Linked DNA regions of Homo sapiens: region 2 is linked to region 1. Evidence: fine-mapped expression QTL. A gene starts in region 1. The other region holds a variant in brackets. All regions are shown on one strand. Distances are between the middles of the regions. Region 1 holds the start of SYT14 (synaptotagmin 14). Region 2 has its middle 41 kb from the start of UTP25.

The links. PIP is the estimated chance that this variant, and not a neighbour inherited with it, causes the effect.
Region 2: its variant is the best candidate, but not a certain one, in a credible set for the expression of SYT14 in tibial nerve (GTEx, PIP 0.67).

The regions. Positions count from the first base shown.
Region 1 is chr1:209,936,012-209,941,391 of GRCh38, reverse strand. It overlaps SYT14 (synaptotagmin 14), which reads right to left and starts at 3,175. Exons shown (of 9, transcript NM_001146262.4): 1 at 3,115-3,175. The coding sequence starts at 3,127. RefSeq lists a silencer at 3,434-3,728.
Region 2 is chr1:209,866,719-209,872,098 of GRCh38, reverse strand. No RefSeq gene overlaps it. Among named protein-coding and RNA genes, the nearest start is that of UTP25, 41 kb to the right of the region's middle. The variant T/C (reference allele first, on the strand shown) is at 2,309.

The sequences.
Region 1 (5,380 bases):
ACAGTAAGGATGTGTAACTATTGTCAATATTTCAAAATGCCTTTCAAAAATTGTAACTTTGCCTAATATAGCCTAACTTCTTTACTGCTGACTGGAATTATGTTAGCTCCATGTGGTAACTCTATCATCTTATATTTGTCTCTTTTTTTGATTAATAGTTACACATCTGACTGATAAAAGGAGGAAATGAATGATTACTTAGTAGAAATAATTTTGTGTTATAAAATAGGTTTACACAGAGAAGAAAATGAAAACAATCCTTAGTACTTAAAAGTCTAGACTCAAGGGCTAAAACACTGGGCCATAGCTAATAAGAGTATGCTTAACAGATATAAACGATCTGTTCAGTTCAAAACATTGGTTAGCTAAGCAAGGGAGTAGTCAAGCTAAAAGAGACTGTGGTTTTAGTTGATTACAGCCTCGCTCTGTGCCAACATGAAGCTCCAAAAAAACCTATTCTAATGTTAAGCTATATTAATAGGATTACACATAAGTGAAGGAGTGGTATAACAGTTTTGATGTATGCTATTCAACAGTATAACTGGAATGAAATGGCCCACTACTATATTCCAAATTTTAAAACATACAACTACAGATCATCCAGAGGAGGGAAGTGGATATTTTATCTAGAAAACACTCTAGAGCTGTCTTCAAATGGCAGAAGGGATATCATATATAGAGAGAATAGTGGGCTTTTAATTTATTGCTACAGAAAGCAAAACTAGGATGGGTAGACAGACGTTACTGAATGGCAGATATTCGGCCAAATACAAAGACCTTATGAATATAAGAATTACTGCCAAAAAACAGTGTTAGACCCATCATCATTGAATGTTTTTATACAAAGGAAAGATGATCCATCTCTTAGCATTCACACTACACTGTAATTGCATGTTTAAAATTATCTGTCTCTCCGAATAGAACATGAACTCTTTGAGAGAAGGGTTATAGTCTTACTTATCTTTTTGGCCCCATGGAATCTAGCAATGAACATTGTATACAGCTATTGTACAAAAAAAAAAAAGGTCTACTGAATTAATAGGTGAATGAAGAAACTGAATGTTTTAAGAAACACTTTACTGAAAAGATGAGACGCCCTTTTGGGCCCCTAAATTTTTAAGATGTCCTTAGTACAGAGTCTCATGCAGAACTCATTCTACTTCATAACACAGCCTAGGAAGGGTGTGCATAATGAATCTATTTTACTATGTGATAAGGAGCACAGTTAGGCTAATTCGAACTGCCATCTTTATCTGAAGTGCTAATATTAATTACAGTTTCTTTGCCAAACTAGAAAAGATATAATTCCTGATCTTTGTATTATGAAAACTTAAGCAAATGCTTCAGTATGAAAATATTTATGAGAGTATCTCAAACACAGAAGAATCTCTAGAATGTGAGGATTTAAAAAATCTTATTCTTCAAACATGTTAAGCAGTAGGCAGAGTAAAATGCCATCAGGTGACATGGAAAATGAATCAGTAACACTTAACTGCCAGTAGAAAGAAAGGAAGAACTAAGAAAAAACGGAAAAAACTGAAAAGATTTTAAGAAATTACAAGTTATAGCATCATATCCGAATGGCATCTGCCTGAAGGATTTTCCTCATGCTCTGCCTAAACCTTTCTACTTTCACGTGGTGTGGTAGTGTGGTAGTGTGGTAGAGTTTCACGGCTTCACAAGAAACTCTACCACAAACTAGTTGGGAAAATAAAGTACACAACATAAATCAGTGGGTTTGGTTTCTTGATTTTTAACCTTTGGTAAAAGGACAGTGAGGGAAACAAATGTTGAAAGTACTGCTGCAGATAACAGGAACATCATAGATTATAGGTAGATCTTATTCCCCACCATTTTAACTCAAGCAGACATTTGAAACTGTCTGAATGTGTCTTGCATACAATAGGTACTCCCTCTCTTAAATAAATAAGCTACATGTAAACACACAGCTAACTCTACTTTGGAGTCCACATGATCCGACAAAAAGAAGTCCCCAGAGATGCATACTACCAGTGATTGATCACTTAGAAGGGAAACGCTTTAAAAAGTTTTACTTAGGAACACACTTTCAATGTAGAGAAATAATGATATAGCTATAGGTACCTTGCACAGCTGCACAGATGAATATACACACACAGGGAAAATTTACAAATTACTTTCACTGTTTGAGTTAATCTAAGAGACAGGGCCTGGAAGATGTAATCTTTCACATAAATATCCTAGACGTGTGAAATTAATTCTCACAATCTCTTCCTTAAAAACAAGGCAAAATATAGACACTTGGTCCCAGTTACATGTTTCTGGAACAAGAGAAAAATACACTTTAGTGTCAACTACCTTATCTAGGAACTTAATTTTTATTAAGCTGTTTTTCGAAATATGAGCATTGTGGCACTATAACACTTCATAGACTGGTATTTGCAGGATTCTAAGAATGTGTGCTTGTTGTAAAGACGTTATTTACTTCTTTTCATGGAGAAAAACAGTTTTGAGTGTTGGCGGGGAACAAAACCACTTGAGGAGGAAATTAACCTAACCCCAAATTTCCTGGACCCCCTACAACAGCAAACAGAAGGGGAACGGGCAGAGAGTGTAACCCAGCATCAGCCCGAGCGGGCACAGGGAAGGGTTAGGAATGGGACAAAAAACTGGACTCTCAGTTTGGCAGGAAGGTGGGTATTGCGGAAGGATGGTTTGCCGCGGCCGGGGAAAGAAAAGAAAGGGCAGCCTGAGCCCCCCGTGGCCCCTCGCTCCTCCCAGCCCGTCCCGTGGGGTCTGCAGGGCCTCACCCCGACCTCCACTCCGCGCGGCCGGCAGGAGGCGGCGGCCCGGACGCTGTACCTGCCCGCCAGCCCGCTTTGCCCCGCGTGCGGCCGCCGGGAGGCCGGCAAAACCACGAAGGCCGGGGCGAGCGAGCCAGTCGGGCCCGGCGTCCCAGCGGCGCCGCTCCGCCCACCCGCCTCCCGAGACGCGGCCAGGACCCCCGCGCGTCTTCAGCCGGCTCCAGACCACAGGAGGCGGCCCCGTCAGCGCCTCGGCCTGCCGGCGCACCTCCGAGCCCCCCGCCAGCTGGGTGGTCCCGGTCCTCGCTCCCCGCTGTCAGCCTCCACTTACCTTCAATCGCCATGATGCGCTCGCCATGGACCGCACCAACTGGATGGCGGGGGCAGCAGACGCGAGGGCTGGCGGAGGACGCGCTGAGTCCGCCAGCGAGAGGGGCGGGGCCCGGCCCGGAGTCGCCCGGCTGTGCGGCCGCGAGGGGCGCCGCGGGCGGGGCGAGGGAGGGGCCCCGAGCGCCGCGAGTGCGGGCCGCGGAAGAAATGGAACCTTCCCGGGGCCGCCGCTGGCACGTGACGCCACCCCGCCCCCACCCCAACCTACCCCACCCCACCCCACCGCCCCACCGCGCCTCGCGCCTCGATTCGAAACAGGTGCCCGGCCCGGAGAGCCACGGGCCCGCGCCCGAGACCCGCCCGAAGCGCGCCGAGCTCGTGTGGGGGCCCAAGCCCAAGCTTCCTGGCGCCGGGCGCCCTCCCGTCCGGTACTTGGAGCAAACGGTGTCCATGAAGGAGGCGAGTGGCAAATGATGTGGTCAGGACCATGGACAGGTCTCCTTGGTTGAAAAGGATTCCCACCCACTGACTCTCAGATTTGGTAATAGTAAGTCTGTTTTGGTTTCGTTTGGTTTTATTTTGTTTTGTTTTGCCCGAATCAGCCACATACTCGTCTCAGATCTCCGCTGTGGAGAAACAGCTAGTTGGCAAAAAGCAAAAAGGAGAGAGGAATCCTGAGCACAGCAGTGGTCTCTCTCTCTCTCTCTCTCTCTCTCTCTCACACACACACACACACACACACTCACTTCACCCCTTAGCCTCGCTCTTGATAAGCCTTGCTGCCACACAGAGCTTGGCTTACCTCTTGGAACTCTGAGTTGGAATTTGTCTACACATTGCAAACGCACATTTGAAGCCACACAAAAGTCAGGGTCAGACGGACGTTTTGACAAAGGACCTGGAAAGCATGTCACACGCAGGTTTTTAAAAATTTGTAAACCTGTGACCATTGTGAACAGTCCCAGGCCAACCCTGAGCACAACAACAATTGGCCACTTAGTTTTTACTTAAGATACTTGAACCGCTCAACCATTTACCCAACTCTCAACTTCATTTAGTAATTTGAGAACCTGGACAATCAACGGCATAAACAACATTGAGAAATAGGGAGTTTAGTGATTCTCTCTTGTGGAGGAAATGCTAATTCCTAGAGCAAAATAGCTATATTAGGGACTGAAACAAAGAAGAAAATATTTTACACTTATGTAAGTAAGGTTGGACTGTAAATCTAGAGCAGAAACTGTCTTCCATTGCTTTTATATAACCTCTCCCTCAGTCGCATTTTATGCTCAATAGACATTCATCCTTTACCATTTTCTTTAGTTCAGTGAGTATCTGTGAAGCCGGCACTGTGCTGAAAACTGGCTACAAGCAAGAATTGTTATTGAAGGATCAAAGAAAATACTGTTTTACTCAGGAAACATTAAAATGCCTATACTTTAGGAAAGCTCCATGAGAGAGTTTATGATGGACATCTAGAGGATTCGGGTAAAATGTTTAATGACATTTTCCCCAGGCAGCCTCCCTTAAAACAGTCTTGAACTCCAAGACATTGATCTGAACTTGACACCACAGTTGTAAGTTGTGGTTTCTGGCTAGTTCTGAGTAACCCAATTGTTCAAACTTTTAAAGAATTTCATATTGAAAGCCCGAAAAATGTATTCATCCTTTCCTCACCAATTACATAGTTACTAAGTAAATAACCAGATTATGTGAGTTTCCATAACCTAGATTAACATCGCTACTATTTGTCCAGGAGACTTATTTGTCCAGGAGACTCATGTGGATGAACTGGGGAAGAAGGAAGATAGTTCCTAGAAGGAGGTTGTTGGACAGAAAGAACTTAACTTATGCCTAGTGTTCCATTATTGGAACGCTAAGCACGCGGGAGTTGTTTACATCCTGCTGCTCAAGGTCATCGCCAAGGTCTGATTGCAAAAATTCTAAAAATTGCAACCTCAGGGATAAATGAGTTAAGTAGTAACTACAAAGGTACTGTACTGTCTAGACATCCACCTCTTGTCTACCTTCTAACTCTTTTGCAAGCACTTGCCTTTCATCGTACTTCCCTGCAGTTCCCTTACAGCAGAGCTATCCAAAAGAATTGTCCGCAACTATTAAAACACTCTGTATTTGTGCTGTCCAATACAGTGGCCCGTAGCCACCTGTGACTATTGAGCACTTTAAACGTAGGGAGTGCAACTGAGGAACTGAATTTTTAGCTTTATTTAATTTTATTCAGTTTAAAGTTTAAAAAGCCACTTGTG
Region 2 (5,380 bases), 69 kb after region 1:
TAGCTGCACAGGAGTATGTGATCTCTGGAATGAAACTCAGCACAGGAATTCAGGGCAGAACTAGAGAGAAATGATGGTTACTGGTGTTACGTACCAGAGGATTGTGCTATGTGCCCATGTGGAGTGCTCCTTGGGGTGCCCTAGAACCAGCAGGGAAGAAAAGGCAGGGGCTGGGAGGGTTCATAGCAGCAAATGGGGCTGAACCAGATAAATACTCTCTTTTTTAAAAATCCTAGGCTAGTACAGCAAGTGACAGTAACAGTTACAAGTGTTAATCCTCTCATTTGCCTCTGCCAGTGTTAGAATATCATAGAGGTGAATTTGAGTTCTTCCCAAGCCATATCCCCTGAGGTGGACAGCAAAGCCTCCAAAGCTCCATCGCTGAGTTTATTAATCCTGGTTCAATAGGGCAGGGAGATCCTCCAAGTCATTCAACAAGCAATTCCCTTACTGTCAGATACCACTTGTCTATAAACACAGCCCATGCAGTTGATGCTATTGGCACAACCACCTAAACTTGAGTGGGATCCAGAGAAATGGCTTCTGGCCTGTGAAGGAAAAAGCAAAAGAAAACAAACACTTGTTTAACAATGATTTAATTCTCTTCCTAATAGGAAAGTCTCGCTCATAAGTCTAGGACTTAAGCTGTCAGACAAGGAGAGGTAAGTCTATTCACTTCAGATAGGTGGTTATTTCTACCTTCCACCTAAAGAATGTGGATGGAAATGTCAGGGGAGGAAAAGAAGCCAGGGATTGCAGGTTGGATTAGATCACTCTGAAAACCATTTTCTGGGTTTATGGGTGATCATGCATTGTGGTTTTTATTTATAGGCAAGTGGTAGCTTACCAAGAGTGACGCTAGGCACATTGCATACTCTGCCTACTTTTCCTTCCCTGACTTTTCCATCTAAACTCACAGAGGCAGATAAGAGGATTAACACTTCTAACTGCTACTGTCACCTGCTATACCAGCCCAGGATTTTTTTAAAAAGAGAGAGAGCATTTCTCTGGTTCCAATTACTCATGATTAGGGGCCAGACTCTGTAAAATGAGATGTTAACTTGAAAAGATAGCTACATTGCAAATGACTCTTGTTCAGTAGAAAGGCAAAAGAATTCTGTCAAATAGAAAACATAACCCCAAAGGGTCTGATCTTGCTGCTGTGTAGGACATTAAACAGTTTTGCCTAGCTTTGCAAACCCACTTCTACATCCTTACTTTCAATGATCATAGAAAACAGCCTCTTGTATTCTCCTTTGATTTGGATTTGTCTTCCTACTGGTTCCCTCACTAATAAGTTAGATCAATCTTCGACTATATCTGTATGAGAATCATGTTTTTAACATTGAATAGCAACCCCCTTCTCCAAACTTCTCTGTGGGCTTCTCTGTTTATAATTATCCATCTTATTCTCTATGCATCATAATGAATTGGACTCATCTGGCTTTCATTTCTTAGCTGGGAGATTAGACAAAGTCTCTTTGTTTTATTTTTTTAAAAAAGAAAGTTCCTTTCGTGTCTACTTTAAGCCTATTCCCTTCAGCAAGTTGTTTAGTGACCTTTTGGGCCCAGCATTGTGCTAGTTACTCCATAAATCATAGAAGAAAGGTCATAGCCCCTGTCCTTAAGTATCTTACAGACCAAATGGAGAGATGCATCATGTCATTTCTCCATAATTTTTTAATAATAGTCATCTGTTTTGAGACATTGCCATGGCATGTGCAGACCAGTTAGCTACCTTGAGCGCTAAGGCTAATCTGATTTTACTCCAGGATCTAGAAGAAAAAAAAAGTAGCAAGAAAGATGACTGTAGCTGTAACAAGTTTCAGCCTCTGTTGGCTCCCACCCAAACTAATCGGCCTGGGAGATTGATTTCCCTTCCAGCCAGCATCTTGTTCAGCATTTCTGCTCATCATGCTTCTGGCATTGCTTCCTCAGAGGACTGTCCATCATTCCTAAATGATCTCTGGTCCTCTTGATAAAACAGCAGACAGATGCTGGGGATACAGAATTGAAATTCAAAAATATACCTGATTTGCAGACTCATTCCCTCCTCCTTGTTACCCTGGCTTCTCTCACCAGAGAGAACCATCAAGCAGTCTAGCAGTGAATTGGGAAGTTTGTGTGTGTGTGTGTGGGTGGGGGGTGTGTTGAGGGTGGGAGTGGGAGTAAAAGGGAGAAGATTCCTGGGATGAGTTTGAGGGGAGAAAGCTTCTAAGCAGCGATTCTCTAAACTCTCTGAATTCTTATAGGCCCATCTTTGAGGGATATTTTGGAGAATGATGTTGATTTTACTGTCTCTTCAAGG[T/C]CAGAAACAAAGGCCAGTTTGTTTAGTGTTAATACAAAGATAGAAGGAGGAAAGAGCAGGCTTTAGTGCCCACATGTTCATTTGGATACAAGGCTAAGAACTTCGGGGTGGGGGTGAACTGGGGAGGGGATGACCATACTTGTGCTAAAGTACTTTATAAATGAAACCCAGCTGAGGCTCTCCCAGGCCCTTCAGATCCAGATAAGGTTTGTTTGAACTGTCTGGACTGTGGAAAGCTACAGCCCTCTCCCATATTTCTGTGAATTATTAAGGGATCTATATGATCTTATTAGCTCTGGCTCCAGCTTTCTGCCCCAGCTGAGTTCTTGATCCCTGCCCTATTGCTTGTGGCTGTTCTTTATTTTCACTCTGGCTTTAACCCAAACATGAAAGAACTTGGCCCTCTTTCCTTGCTTTCCACAAAATAACCATTCACACATGGAAATGAAGGAGATTTCTATGCAGCAACATGAGCTATTTTAAATGGCACAGCAGATATTCCTCTTCTTAAAAGTTCTTTGGCTACCCTGCCTTCTTGCCCTGCCATCCCCCAAATCTTCTTGTTCTTTTGTGCAAAGGCAGTGTGTTCTAACAGGAGCATGAAGGTTGCCTGCTAGAGTTCCTATCCTAGTCTAACGCTTACTCGCTGTATACCTTAGGTAAGTCACTTCAACTCTCCATGCCTCATTCTTCTCATCTGTAAAATGGATTTAATAGCCCACCTATCTCATAAAGTAGTTGTGAGAATAAAAGGAGATAGATATTGCCAATACGCTCATTAAAAGATGCTTGCCACCATTAGTTAACAGGGAAATAGAAATCAAAATCACGATGAGATACCACCACCACGAAGATGGCCAGAATAAAAAATTCAGATAACAACAAGCGTTGGTGAGAATGTGAAGAAATCAGAACCCTTATAGATGGCTGATGGAAATGTAAAATGGTGCAGCTGCTTTGAAAAACAGTTTGGCAAGTTCTCAAATAGTTCAACATAGAGTTACTATAGAACTCAGCGATCCACTCTTAGTTGTATACCAAAGAGAAATGAAAACAACGTCCACACAAAAACTTGTGCCTGAACGTTTATAGCAGCATTATTTATTATAGCCAAAAGGTGGAAACAACCCAACGTCCATCAACTGACAAATGGATACATGAAATGTGTTAAATTCATACAGTGGAATATGTTCAACTACAAAAAAGACCAAAGTGCCAACATAAGCTATAATAACATGGAAGAATCCTGAAAGCATTGTGCTATGTAAAAGAAGCCAGTTGTAACAGATCACATACTATAGCATTCTATTCATGTGAAAAAGAAAGAGAGAAACCTACAGAAAGTAGGTGAGCGGTTGCTCAGGACTGAGGGGTGGGGTGTGGGGAAGAGGAGGGTAGTAGCTAAGGGACATGGGGTTTCTTTTTGAGGTGATGAAAATGTTCTAAAATTAACTGTGGTATTGTTTGTACATATCTGCGAATACTCTGAAAGCCATTGATCGTACCCTTTATGTGGGTACATTGTATGGTATGTGAATTATATCTTAACAAACTGTTTTTTTAAAAAAAAGGAAATGTATATTTATATTTATAACAGTGCCTAGCACACAGAAAAGCTCAGGGACCTGAGAGGAAACAGATGGCACATTGATGTGAGTTATTAAGGAGAGATTAATGAAGTATCTATTCACAGAGGTGTGGGCAGGGTCAGGGGAAATGAACAAGAGATGCTGGAGTGTCCCAGGGCAAGGGGAGGAATCCAGAGGCTGGGCTGTAGTAGAGAGGGTGGCCCAGCAGGAGCTGTGGCTTTCATAGAGACAGCAGCCACCACCCACCTGCAGCCCAGCAGGGAGACCCTGAGAACCAAGGCCTCCACATGATCAGACATCATTTGCTGGGGCTTCTCTTGGCTGGACCCGTCCGAGAGCTCGAAGAGCCATTGAGGAGCCCACAGATGTCTCCTGGAGCAGAAGCTGTTATTATTATGTGCACCAGCTTAGCCTTCGTTTGTTTTGTCACATCTTAACAGCCCCACCTTAGTGCCAATCTTCTACGGCCATGCTTTTCCCACCAATTGGTCCAATAAGGTAGGTTCTTAACTAAGAGGTTTGCTTACTAAGAGGTTTGGGTACTTTTCTATCGGGGGAACTCACCCCCAATATTTCAACGTAGGTTCTTTCTATTTTCTCCAAGTGTCAGCTGGTCTGAGAAATAGAAAGAGTACAAAGAGAGGAATTTTACAGCTGGGCCGCTGGGGGTGACATCACATATCGGTAGGTCCATGATGCCCACCTGAGCCACAAAACCAACAGGTTTTTATTGAGGACTTTAAAAGGGGAGGGGGTGTATGAACAGGGAGTAGGTCACAAAGATCACATGCTTCAAAGGGCAAAAAGGAGAACAAAGATCACATGCTTCTGAGGCCAATAAAGATCACGAGGCAAAGGGCAAAGCAAAGATCACGAGGCACAGACAAAATAAAAAACTCCTGATAAGGGTCTATGTTCAGCTGTGCACATATTGTCTTGATAAACATCTTAAACAACAGAAAACAGGGCTCGAGAGCAGAGAACTGGTCTGACCTCAGATTTACCAGGGAGCAGTTTTTTCCCCCATCCTAATAAGCCTGAGTACTGCAGGAGACCAGGGCGTATTTCAGTCCTTATCTCAACCGCATAAGACAGACACTCCCAGAGCAGCTGTTTATAGACCTCCCACCAGGAATGCATTCCTTCCCCAGGGAATTAATTATTAATATTCCTTGCTGGGAAAATAATTCAGCAATATCTTCCCTACTTGCACATCCATTTATAGGGTCTCTGCAAGAAGAAAAATATGGCTGTATTCTGCCTGACCCTGCAGGCAGTCAGACCTTATGGTTGCCTTCCCTTGTTCCCTACAATTGCTGTTATTCTGTTCATTTTCAAGGTGCACTGATTTCATATTGTTCAAACACACATGTTCTACAGTCAATTTGTACAGTTAACACAATAGTGGTCCTGAGGTGACATACATCCTCAGCTTACGAAGATAACAGGATTAAGAGATTAAAGACAGGCATAAGAAATAATT